Regions from separate parts of the Homo sapiens genome. Here regions 1 and 3 are each linked to region 2. Evidence: fine-mapped expression QTL. A gene starts in region 2. Each other region holds a variant in brackets. All regions are shown on one strand. Distances are from middle to middle. Region 1 has its middle 59 kb from the start of SRPK2. Region 2 holds the start of SRPK2 (SRSF protein kinase 2). Region 3 overlaps SRPK2 (SRSF protein kinase 2).

Region 1 (4,238 bases), 59 kb before region 2:
CAATTGATAGACGTTTGGGTTGTTTCCACCTTCTGGCTTTTATGAATAATGCTGTTATAAACATTTTGGTATGAGTTTTTGTACAGTCATATGTCTCCATTTCTCTTGAGTATAAAGCTAGGAGTGGAATTTCTGTGTCATATAACTGTGTTTAATCTTTGAAGAACTCTCAGACTGTTTTCCTAAGTAGCTGCACCATGTTACATTCCCACTAGGAGTGTATGACAGTTCTATTTTCTCCACATCCTCGTCAACACTTGTTGTTATCTGTCTTTGTGATTGTAGCCATCCTTTTGGGTATAAAGAGGTTTCTCTGCTGGACGTGGTGGCTCACGCCTGTAATCCCAGCACTTTAGGAGGTCAAGTTGGGCAGATCACTTGAGGTCAGGAGTTTAAGACCAGCCTGGCCAACATGGTGAAACCCCATGTCTACTAAAAATACAAAAATTAGCCAGACATGGTGGCAGGCACCTGTAATCCCATCTACTTGGGAGGCTGAGACAGGAGAACTGCTGAACCTAGGAGGCAGAGGTTGCAGTGAGCCAAGATTGCGTCACTGCACTCCAGCCTGGGCGAGGGAGCAAGACTCCATCTCAAAAGCAAAAATAAAAATAAATTTAAACAAATGAAAATAAAGTGGTTTCTCACTACGGTTTTGATTTGCATTTCCCTGATGACTATGTGGAATATTTTTGTATGCTTATTGGCCATTTGTCTATTCTTTGGAGAAATGTCTATTGAGATCTTTTGCCCATTTGGGGGGTGTTATTTTTCTTTATGTTGTTGAGATCTAGAGTTCTTTGTATGTTCTAGGCACAAATCCTTTACCAGGTATACGATTGGCAAATATTTTCTCCCATTCCATGGGTTGTCTACTTTCTTTTTTTTTTTTTTTTCTTTTGAGACAAGATCTCATTGTTGCTCAGGCTGTCTGTAGTAACACGATCACGGATCACTGAGGCCTCAACCTCCCAGGCTTAAAAGTAGCTGGGACTACAGGCACACACCACTACAGGCTAATTTTTGTATTTTTGGTAGAGATGGGGTTTCACCATGTTGTCCAGGCTGGTCTTGAACTCCTGAGCTCAAGCCATCTGCCTGCCTCGGCCTCCTAGAGTGCTGGGATTACAGGCTTGAGCCACTGAGCCTGGCCTATCTTTACTTTCTTGAGGGTTGGGTTTTTGTTTTGTTTTGTTTTTTGAGACAAAGTCTTGCTCTGTCACCAGGCTGGAGTACAGTGGCGTGATTTTGGCTCACTGCAACCTCCCCCTCCCGGGTTCAAGCGATTCTCCTGCCTCAGCCTCCCGAGTAGCTGAGACCACAGGCACATGCCACCACGCCCACCTAATTTTTGTATTTTTAGTAGAGACGGGATTTCACCATGTTGGCCAGGATGGTCTCGATCTCTTGACCTCGTGATCTGCCTGCCTCGGCCTCCCAAAGTGCTGGGATTACAAGCGTGAGCCACTGCGCCCAGCTGAGGGTTGGGTTTTAAAGGCTGTAGGAGTTATTCTTTATTGAAATTTTGTTTCTAAACTAAGTTCCTATGGTGTCCATAATAACTAGATTGCTGCAGTGTCCACAGTAACCATCTGAAAATGGATTTTCATGACTGGGAGGGCTCAGGGTTAAGCGCAAGAATTCACAACCATAACTTTACAGGATGAAAATAGTCAGGCACTGCCAGGAGCGGTGGCTCACACTTGTAATCCCAGCACTTTGGGAGGCCTAGGCAGACGGATCACTTGAGATCAGGAGTTGAAGACCAGTCTGGCCAACATGGTGAAACCCTGTCTCTACTAAAAATACAAAAATTAGCCGGGCGTGGTGGTGGGCGCCTGTAATCCCAGCTACTTGCTGGGCTGAGGCACGAGAATTTCTTGAATCCGGGAGGCAGAGGTTGCAGTAAGCCAAGATCTCGCCACTGCACTCCAGCCTAGGCGACAGAGTGAGACTCCGTCTCAAAACAAACAAACAACAACAACAACAACAAAAAAAACCACTTAGGCGCACTTGGGAACGCTTTTGTTTCAGCTCAGTTCAACTCCACCTGCACCCTCTGAGAGCTGCAAATGGGGAACATAACTCTCCTTAGCCCAGCACCCACGTCTGTTCTCTACTAGCCACATTCATCCTGTTTTCTACATTTCTCTCTTCCTGTTTACAAAATTAATTTTCAACATAGAAGATCTTACTACCTGTTTTGGCCTAGACAAATGTTTCACTACCAAAAAAC[T/G]TGCTCGTCAAGCTGACACAGAGTCATTCCACTTAACGAGTTAGCCACCTTCCATTAGCTGGAAAGATGATAGAGTCTTAGTTGATCCTTTTTTCTAATAATAATATCTGTCTAATAAAGTGGAGCTAAAGTCTGTTTCTTTCCTGTGCCATCCTGGTTTCTTAGGACCCCTGCACATTAATTAGGAGGAAGTCATGATGTGGATAACTCCAAAAGGTGAAAATCCAAAAGTAAATAAAGCACTGGAGGCTGCTGTGATAAAGAGGAAAGGACGTCAAACCAGGAGTCAAAATGCACAGGCTGAAGTCCTGGCCCTGCCACTGACTGTTGCTCAGAGACCTTCAGAGATCCACATCCCTCCTCCGGACCTCAGCTTTCTCCAGAGAATCCCTCAATGCTAACTGTTGCAGAGTACTCCATGGAGTGCACCCATCACACGTGGACTACACGGAGCTCCAGGGATGGACATCAGATTTGCCTCTAACTCCTCATCACCCTAAACAACATTGTCATCAACTCCATTGCACATGTCTCCTTGTGGACCCATCACAGCACCATCAGTTCCCACTGTTGCAGGCTAAGGAAGAAGCCTGTACACAGTCCCATCTGGGTGGGATTGGCTGTCCACAGAGGTAGGAAGACGAAGTGATGCCAAGTAGGATCATCTTCCCTCCAGAACTTGGGCCCAGTCTTCCAGGAGTTGTCATCTGTGCTTGGAGCAATAACTCATTTTCTCTCCTCTCTTACCATGTGAATTTTTCACTACTTTAAAAAATTGCTGGCTGGGCATGGTGGCTCACGCCTGTAATCCCAGCACTTTGGGAGGCCGAGGCGGGTGGATCACGAGGTCAGGAGATCAAGACCATCCTGGCTAACATGGTGAAACCTCGTCTCTACTAAAAATACAAAAAATTAGCCAGGCGTGGTGGCAGGTGCCTGTGGTCCCAGCTACTTGGGAGGCTGAGGCAGGAGAATGGCGGGAACCTGGGAGGCAGAGCTTGCAGTGAGCTGACATAGCGCCACTGCACTCCAGACTGGGCAACAGAGCGAGACTCAGTCTCAAAAAAAAAAAAAAAAAAAATTGCTGGCCAGGCACGGTGGCTCACGCCTGTAATCCCACCACTTTGGGAGGCCAAAGCAGGTGGATCACCTGAGGTCAGGAATTTGAGACCAGCCTGGCCAACATGGTGAAACCCCGTCTCTACCAAAAATACAAAAATTAGCCAGGCATGGTGGCGGGTGCCTGTAGTCCCAGCTACTTAAGAGGCTGAGGCAGGAGAATTGCTTGAACCTGGGAGGCGGAGGTTGCAATGAGCCGAGATTGTGCCACTACACTCCAGCCTGGGCAACAGAGCGAGACTCCATCTCAGAAAAAAAAAAAAAAAATTGCAATATACATTCATAACCAAGTCCACTTTCAAATAACACCATACTGCTTCATGAGTAGTACAGGTCCTTCATGGATAGTACAGATACTTTATAACAGTATTTGCTGGCCAGGCACGGTGGCCCATGCTTATAATCCCAGCACTTTGGGACGTCAAGGTGAGCAGATCATGTGAGGTCAGGAGTTCAAGACCAGCCTGGCTGACATAGTGAAACCTCGTCTCTACTAAAATACAAAAATTAGCCAGGCACGGTGCCAGGCACCTGTAATCCCTGCTACTCGGGAGGCATCCCAAGTTGGGATTGCACCGTTGTACTCCAGCCTGGATGACAGAGTGAGACTCTGTCTAAAAAACAAAAAACAAAAACAAACAAACAAAAAAACAGTATTTGCAACTCCTTTCTACTGCTTTCTAAAGCAAAGAAACGGCTTTCATTGATTTCACATTTCCATGCTATAATCATGCAATTCCTTCTTGCTATTATTATTTTGAATGGTCATATATTAGATCAGTTAATAAGAAAAGTAAAAGGTTATTTTTATTCCTTCTCTGATTCTCTTCCTTTCTTGATATGCATGAGAGTTTCTGACCTATATCATTTTCCTTTTCACTGA
Region 2 (4,238 bases):
CAAATCCTTTGCTCATTTTTCATACAGACTTCTTAAATACAGAGGGAAAAGGTACCTGTATCTTGGAGAAATAATTAACTGTAACATCACCAGTAATGGAACAAACTGACATCATATTTTGATGCACTAAGATGAATACAACATCATCTATAGTATAGCCAACAAAATTGTTTAACTTGAATCTAATCATAGGGAAACAGACAAATCCAAAACAGGGAACATTCTGCAAAATGGTGGAACTGGATTCTTCAAAAAAGTCAATGTTATAAACAACAAAACAAAACAAAACAAAAAAAGGCTGGGTGCCGAGGCTCAGGCCTGTAATCCTAGCACTTTGGGAGGTTGAGGTGGGTGGATGACCCGAGGTCAGGAGTTCGAGACCAGCCTGGCCAATAGGGTGAAACCCTGTCTCTACTAAAAAAAAAAAAAAAAAAAAAAAAACAAAAACAAAAATTAACTAGATGTGGTGGTGTATGCCTGTAATCCCAGCTACTCGGGAGACTGAGGCAGGAGAATGGCTTGGACCCGGGAGGCTGAGGTTGCAGTGAGCTGAGATTGCGCCACTGCACTCCAGCCTGGGTGATAGAGTGAGACTCCATTTCAAAATAAATAAATAAATAGAAAGAAAACCAAAACACAAAACCAAGAATGATTCTAGACTAAAGGTGTTTAAAAAGACATGACAATTAAATGCAACGGATGATCCTTAATGGTAGACTAATTGGGAAAAAAAGAAAATCAGCGACAAGGGATATTACTGGGATATTTTGCAAAATTGAATATATATGGCCTGTATGTTACAGATGATTACATTGTATTAGTATGAAAGTTTCTTGGAGTGATCATGGAATTCTGATTATGTGGGAGATTATCTTTATTCTTAGTAGATATGTACTGAAATATTTAGGGATAAAGGGTAACAGTGTCTACAAAAACTCAAGTGATTCAGCAAAATAAACCATACACACAGACACATAGATAGCAAATGTGGCAGAATGTTAAAAATTGGTGAATATGGGTTAATTTGGCTGTTAATTGTATTTTCCTTGTAACTTTTCTATAGGGTTTGATATTTTTTTGAATATAAAAAGTTAAGGACTCTTCAAAATCCAAGCAGAGTTTCCCGTTCTGATTTATCATCCTTAGTGTAAGCCACCTTGTCAAAGATACAGTTGTGTGACCAATGAGGGAGTTAATAGTCAGAATGCGTATCTTTCAAAAACTATTGTAATTATTTACATAAATAAGAGAACATTGCAGTTATCTTTTTGTGTCACTATCAACTTGATTCACATCTTTTGTAGGCAGCCTGATAAGGTGGTTTGTCGACGGCCAGGCCTGAATTTCGATCCTGGCTGGTTAAACTTTTTAACCTCGTTGGGACTCAGTTTCCTCATTGTAGGATGCAGAAAATAACTACTTGGTGTGATTGTTGTTTTGAATTGTTATACACCTGGTGTTTACGGAAGCGAGTTTCAATTCATGTGCAAAACCTTTGTCCTACCTTGAATGCTATCTGTATCTTTTCCTTCATTAAACTCATGCAATCCTGGAGGGCACTTAGAGGTGGGAGAGAAAATGACTTCTCCAAGGTCACACCGCTAATCGCGGACCCAGGTTTCCCAGCTTTTGGTCGTGTGCCCTTTCCACGCCTGCCGGAGAGGAGGAAGCGGCGCTCATGGGGTTGCAAGGATGTAGAGGAGCAAAGGGAGAGAAGAGGCCGCGGGAAGAGAGGTGGTGCGAGACCCGCGGAGGCGCCGGCCAAGGACGGGCGCATGGAGCAGCGGGCGGCGCGACCGGCCGGGGTGCGGAGGGGAGAGGCCGCGGCGGGGAGGGAGGGTCCCGCGGGTCCGGTGCCCGGGAGAGGCGGGCGGCCTGGGCCAGCCGCAGGATCGCAGGAGGCGGAGGCCCGGGCCGCGGGCTGGGGTGGGGGAGGCCGAGGGCCAGCGCGGCCATGGGCGGCGGCCACTTCTGCACAGGTGGGTGGGGCGGGGGCGCGGGGCGCTGGGCGCGCGGCGCTGGGGTCCCGACCCCCGGGGCCGGCGGGTGGGGGCGGGGCGGGGGCGGGGCCGGACGGGGGCGGGTCTTGCTGGGTCCCTGCTGGAGCGGCGGCGGCGGCGGCGGCGCAGGCGCGGTTCTCGTCTCCTCCCGGCCGGCGGAGCGAGTGGAGGCTGCAGCCCAGCTCGTCTCGGCGCCCGCGTCGCCGTCGCGAAGCCCCCCGCCCCGCTTCCGCCGCGTCGGAATGAGCTCCCGGAAAGGTGAGTGGCCCGCGGCGCGCCCTCTCCCCGCCACGCGGCCAGCCCGGGCGGGCGGCCCGACCGTTAATGTGTGTCTTCTCTTCCCCAGTGCTGGCCATTCAGGCCCGAAAGCGGAGGCCGAAAAGAGAGAAACATCCGAAAAAGTGAGTCCACGCTGCGCCTGTCCCCGTTCCCCACCCCCGCCCCGTCGGGGGCGCCCGCGGCCGCGCAGGGGAAAGTTGTCCGGGTCCCCGGGCCGGCGGGCGGGCTGGTCCCCCGGGACGCTGGCGCTCGGCTCCTGCCCCCGGCGGGCGGCCCGGGGGGAGGGGCGGCGGCGGGGGAGGGGCGCGCGGGCCGCGGCCGGTTCCCTAGCATCACGGAGCCTCGACCCCGCGACCTCCCGCCCCGGGTCGCCACCGGCCGGCGGGCGGGAGGCCGGCGGAAAGGCGCCGGGCAGGGCGTGCGCACCCGTCCCTTGCCCGCGAGCTGGCCCGGGGGTCGCGGCCCTTTCCGGAAGGGGCCCCGGCGTCTGCCGCTGGGCTCCGGCCCGCCCGCTGCGGGAGTGCAGCGGCTGCGTTGCTCCCACCTGAGCCGCGGGCCGAGGAGGCGGAGGGGCCGAGTGTGCGGGAGGGCGTGTGTCTCGCCTCCCCTTCCTCCCCGGCCCCCGCCTGTCGGCCTTTCTGCTGAGAACCTAAGCTGGTTGTCAAGTGGTTTGCCTCGGGCGTGTTCCTGGCGCGAGTTCAGCCCCGAGACCTGTGCGTTTCGGCTCTCGGGTTTGGATTCGAAACTTTCCGCTCGGGTTGAGCGTGACTTGGGTGCGCTGCGGGCGCCGGGGTCGCGGGCTGCGCAGGGCGGTGGGCGTGTGCGCGGGAGCCGGTCGGAGTGGAAAACGCGCCCGTGGCGGCCACCTCCAGCCTGGCCGCTCACCCGAGCAGGGGGGCCGCTGCCCAAGAACCCTTTCCTGGAGAGCTGCTCCGAGACCGCACAGCGCCGCCGCGTCTTCTCCTTTTCCACTCCTCTCTCCTAATTTTTTTGATTTACCAGCGTTCGACATCGTTATCTCTTCCTCTAGATTAATTGCTTCGCTCTTTTGAGCAAGAATACTCTGTGTGGCATCTTTGGTACTGTGGGGAACGAGAATCCAGCATTATCTTTAATAAAATCCAGAAACATTTTTGGTTGTTTCCTTTGAGGGGTACGTCGCAGCACGCTCACTTTTTTCCCCTTCTCGTTGGCCTTGGTCCTTCAGTTTCACAAAATGTGGATAGTGACTTAAAAATACCTTAAAAAAAAAAAAAAAAGAAAAAACCATTAGAGTAAGGGGAAAGCACTTCCTAAAGAGTTGAAGAACTAATTGGTCGGTAAAAATTGGATATTGAATTCATAAGATGTTAAAATGGACTGGATTTTTGGTAGTTTTGGTTGCTTTTAAAAAAATTAGTGCTAGCTTTCAAGTGAATTACAACCTTAAATTTGAGATTTCCTTTGGTGAACCATGGAAGTTTACCCAGTGGTAAGGAGAACTGTAATGTTTAGGATTCTGAATAAGTACTGTGTTTTAATCACAGCTCTTAATTCAAAGCATTGATTTAATTCCACGTAGTCTGTTATACTCAGAAACATAAAAACAAGTGGAAAAAGTATGACCCCAGTGTCGGAGATGGCTATGTGTGCATGTATATACAAATAGACACGTATATGTGCATGTTACCTTTACGTACATGTGGAAAAACAGTTCTAATTAAGTCAATATGTGTCTTGTATTTGCATATATTAGAGTATGATTTTCCTAATGGTCGAGGGCCTTTTTGGTGGGCCGCAGTTTGGATTTATGTGGTATGTTGATGAAGACTTAGTGAATAGCCACAGTACTCAGCTTTTCCTCTCACAGATTAATCTGCCAGTTTCTCCCACTGTGTATTGTGTATATGTGATAGAATTTGAGGGGGAAAATAACACACCAGCTAATGATGAAACGAACTGGCTCTAGTCTGTAAGGTA
Region 3 (4,238 bases), 27 kb after region 2:
AAATTCCTGCTGGAGAAGACTGTCCAGATGTGCATGACTTCAAAGGATTTTTATTAAAAATTATTTTATTATTTTTTAATTATACTTTAAGTTCTAGGGTACATGTGCACAGCATGCAGGTTTGTTACATATGTATACATGTGCCATGTTGGTTTGCTGCACCCATCAACTTGTCATTTACATTAGGTATTTCTCCTAATGCTATCCCTCTCCCAGCCCCCCACCCCACGACAGGCCCCAGTGTGTGATGTTCCCCGCCCTGTGTCCATGTGTTCTCATTGTCCGGCTCCCACCTACGAGTGAGAACATGCGGTGTTTGGTTTTCTGTCCTTGTGATAGTTTGCTGAGAATGATGGTTTCCAGATTCATTCATGTCCCTGCAAAGCACATGAACTCATCCTTTTTTATGGCTGCATAGTATTCCATGGTGTATATGTGCCACATTTTCTTAATCCACTCTATCATTGATGGACATTTGGGTTGGTTCCAAGTCTTTGCTATTGTGAATAGTGCCGCAATAATAAACATACATGTGCATGTGTAGTAAGCCTAGTAGCATGATTTATAATCCTTTGGGTATATACCCAGTAATGAGATGGCTGGGTCAAATGGTATTTCTAGTTCTAGATCCTTGAGGATTCACCACACTGCCTTCCACAAGGGTTGAACTAATTTACACTCCCACCAACCGTGTAAAAGTGTTCCTATTTCTCCACATCCTCTCCAGCACGTGTTGTTTCCTGACTTTTTAATGATTGCCATTCTAATTGGTGTGAGATGGTATCTCATTGTGGTTTTGATTTGCATTTCTCTGATGGCCAGTGATGATGAGCATTTTTTCATGTGTCTGTTGGTTGCATAAATGTCTTCTTTTGAGAAGTGTCTGTTCATATCCTTTGCCCTCTTTTTGATGGGGTTGTTTGATTTTTTCTTGTAAATTTGTTTAAGTTCTTTGTAGATTCTGGATATTAGCCCTTTGTCAGATGGGTAGATTGCAGAAATTTTCTCCCATTCTGTAGGTTGTTTACTCTGATGGTAGTTTCTTTTATTTTTTATTTATTTTTATTTATTTTTTATTATACTTTAAGTTCTAGGGTACATGTGCACAACGTGCAGCTTTATTACATATGTATACATGTGCCATGTTGGTGTGCTGCACCCGTTAACTCATCATTTACATTAAGTATATCTCCTAATGCTATCCCTCCCCTCTCCCCCCACCCCACGACAGGCCCCGGTGTGTGATGTTCCCCATCCTGTGTCCAAGTGTTCTCATTGTTCAGTTCCTATGAGTGAGAACATGCAGTGTTTGGTTTTCTGTCCATGCGATAGTTTGCTTAGAATGATGGTTTCCAGCTTCATCCATGTCCCTACAAAGGAACTCATTCTTTTTTATGGCTGCATAGTATTCCGTGGTGTATATGTGCCACATTTTCTTAATCCAGTCTATCACTGATGGACATTTGGGTTGGTTCCAAGTCTTTGCTATTGTGAATAGTGCCACAGTAAACATACATGTACATGTGTCTTTATAGCAGCATGATTTATAATCCTTTGGGTATATACCCGTTAATGGGATGGCTGGGTGAAATGGTATTTCTATTTCTAGATCCTTGAGAAATCACCACACTGTCTTCCACATGGTTGAACTAGTTTACAGTCCCACCAACAGTTTAAAAGTGTTCCTATTTCTCCACATCCTCTCCAGCACCTGTTGTTTCCTGACTTTTTTTTTTTTTTTTTTTGAGACAGAGTCTTGCTCTGTCGCCCAGGCTGGAGTGCAGTGGCGTGATCTCAGCTCACTACAAGCTCTGCCTCCTGGGTTCAGGCCATTCACCAAGTTAGCCAGGATGGTCTCCATCTCCCAACCTTGTGATCCACCCGCCTTGGCCTCTCAAAGTGCTGGGACTACAGGCGTGAGCCACCGCGCCCGGCCATTTCCTGACTTTTTAATGATCGCCATTCTAACTGGTGTGAGATGGTATCTCATTGTGGTTTTGATTTGCATTTCTCTGATGGCCAGTGATGATGAACATTTTTTCATGTGTCTGTTGGCTGCATAAATGTCTTCTTTTGAGAAGTGTCTGTTCATATCCTTCGCCCACTTTTTGATGGGGTTGTTTGATTTTTTTTCTGGTAAATTTGTTTAAGTTCTTTGTAGATTCTGGATATTAGCCCTTTGTCAGATAGGTAGATTGTAAAAATTTTCTCCCATTCTGTAGTGCGTGTTCACTCTGATGGTAGTTTCTTTTGCTGTGCAGAAGCTCTTTAGTTTAATTAGATCCTGTTTTTCAATTTGGCTTTTGTTGCCAGGCGCTTTCGGTGTTTTAGTCATGAAGTCCTTGCCCATGCCTATGTCCTGAATGGTATTGCCTAGGTTTTCTTCCTAGGGTTTTTATGGTTTTAGGTCTAACATTTAAGTCTTAAATCCATCTTGAATTAATTTTTGTATAAGGTGTAAGGAAGAGATCCAGTTTCAGTTTTCTACATATAGCTAGCCAGTTTTCCCAGCACCATTTATTAAAT[G/A]GGGAATGCTTTCCCCATTGCTTGTTTTTGTCAGGTTTGTCAAAGATCAGATGGTTGTAGATGTGCGGTGGTATTTCTGAGGCCTCTGTTCTGTTCCATTGATCTATATATCTGTTTTGGTACCAGTACCATGCTGTTTTTGTTACTGTAGCCTTGTAGTATAGTCTGAAGTCAGGTAGCATGATGCCTCCAGTTTTATTCTTTTTGCTTAGGATTGTCTTGGCAGTGCGTGCTCTTTTTTGGTTCCGTATGAACTTTAAAGTAGTTTTTTCCAATTCTGTGAAGAAAGTAATTGGTAGCTTGATGGGGATGGCATTGAATCTATAAATTACCTTGGGCTGTATGGCCATTTTCACGATATTGATTCTTCCTATCCATGAGCATGGAATGTTCTTCCATTTGTTTGTGTCCTCTTTTATTTCATTGAGCAGTGGTTTGTAGTTCTCCTTGAAGAGGTCCTTCACATCCCTTGTAAGTTGGATTCCTAGGTATTGTATTCTCTTTGTAGCAATTGTGAATGGGAGTTCACTCATGATTTGGCTCTCTGTGTGTTATTGGTATATAGGTGTATAAGAATGCTTGTGATTTTTGTACATTGACTGAGACTTTGCTGAAGTTGCTTATCAGCTTAAGGAGATTTTGGGCTGAGATGATGGGGTTTTCTAAATAGACAATCATGTCATCTGCAAACAGGGACAATTTGACTTCCTCTTTTCCTAATTGAATACCCTTTATTTCTTTCTCTTGCCTGATTGCCCTGGCCAGAACTTCCAGCAACGTGTTGAATATTCGAGTGGTGAGAGAGGACATCCTTGTCTTGTGCCAGTTTTCAAAGGGAATGCTTCCAGTTTTTGCCCATTCAGTATGATATTGGCTGTGGGTTTGTCATAAATAGCTCTTACTATTTTGAGATACGTTCTGTCAATACCGAATTTATTGAGAGTTTTTAGCATGAAGGCCTGTCGGGTTACCCACAAAGGGAAGCCCATCAGACTAACGGCGGATCTCTCGGCAGAAACCCTACAAGTCAGAAGACAGTGGGGGCCAGTATTCAGCATTCTTAAAAGAATTTTTAACCCAGAATTTCATATCCAGCCAAACTAAGCTTCATAAGTGAAGGAGAAATAAAATCCTTTACTGACAAGCAAATGTTGAGAGATTTTGTCACCACCAGGCCTGCCTTACAAGAGCTCCTGAAGGAAGCACTAAATATGGAAAGGAAAAGCTGGTACTAGCCACTGCAAAAAAAATTGTAAAGACCATCGATGCTATGAGGAAACTGCATCAACTAATGGGCAAAATAACCAGCTAACATCATAATGACAGGATCAGATTCACACAGTATTAACCTTAAATGTAAATGGGCTAAATGTCCCAATTAAAAGACACAGACTGGCAAATTGGATAGAGAGTCAAGACCTATCAGTGTGCTGTATTCAGGAGACCCATCTTACCTTCAGAGACACACATAGTCTCAAAATAAAGGGATGGAGGAAGATGTACCAAACAAATGGAAAGCAGAGAAAAGCAGGGGTCGAGATCCTAGTCTCTGATAAAACAGACTTTAAACCAGCAAAGAACAAAAGAGAGACAAAGAAGGCCATTACATAATGGTAAAGGGATCAATTCAACAAGAAGAGCTAACTATCCTAAATCTGTATGCACCCAATACAGGAACATCCAGATTCATAAAGCAAGTCCTTAGAGACCTA

What was found. PIP is the estimated chance that this variant, and not a neighbour inherited with it, causes the effect.
Region 1: its variant is the best candidate, but not a certain one, in a credible set for the expression of SRPK2 in whole blood (TOPMed, PIP 0.75).
Region 3: its variant is the best candidate, but not a certain one, in a credible set for the expression of SRPK2 in whole blood (TOPMed, PIP 0.51).

Annotation. Positions count from the first base shown.
Region 1 is chr7:105,446,245-105,450,482 of GRCh38, reverse strand. No RefSeq gene overlaps it. Among named protein-coding and RNA genes, the nearest start is that of SRPK2, 59 kb to the right of the region's middle. RefSeq lists an enhancer at 2,195-2,314. The variant T/G (reference allele first, on the strand shown) is at 2,237.
Region 2 is chr7:105,386,811-105,391,048 of GRCh38, reverse strand. It overlaps SRPK2 (SRSF protein kinase 2), which reads left to right and starts at 2,128. Exons shown (of 16, transcript NM_182692.3): 1 at 2,128-2,258; 2 at 2,347-2,401. The coding sequence starts at 2,243. RefSeq lists silencers at 1,758-1,927, 2,028-2,077, 2,088-2,157, 2,188-2,317, 2,658-2,777 and 1 more.
Region 3 is chr7:105,360,024-105,364,261 of GRCh38, reverse strand. All of the region lies in intron 2 of SRPK2 (SRSF protein kinase 2), which reads left to right. Among named protein-coding and RNA genes, the nearest start is that of SRPK2, 27 kb to the left of the region's middle. The variant G/A (reference allele first, on the strand shown) is at 2,527.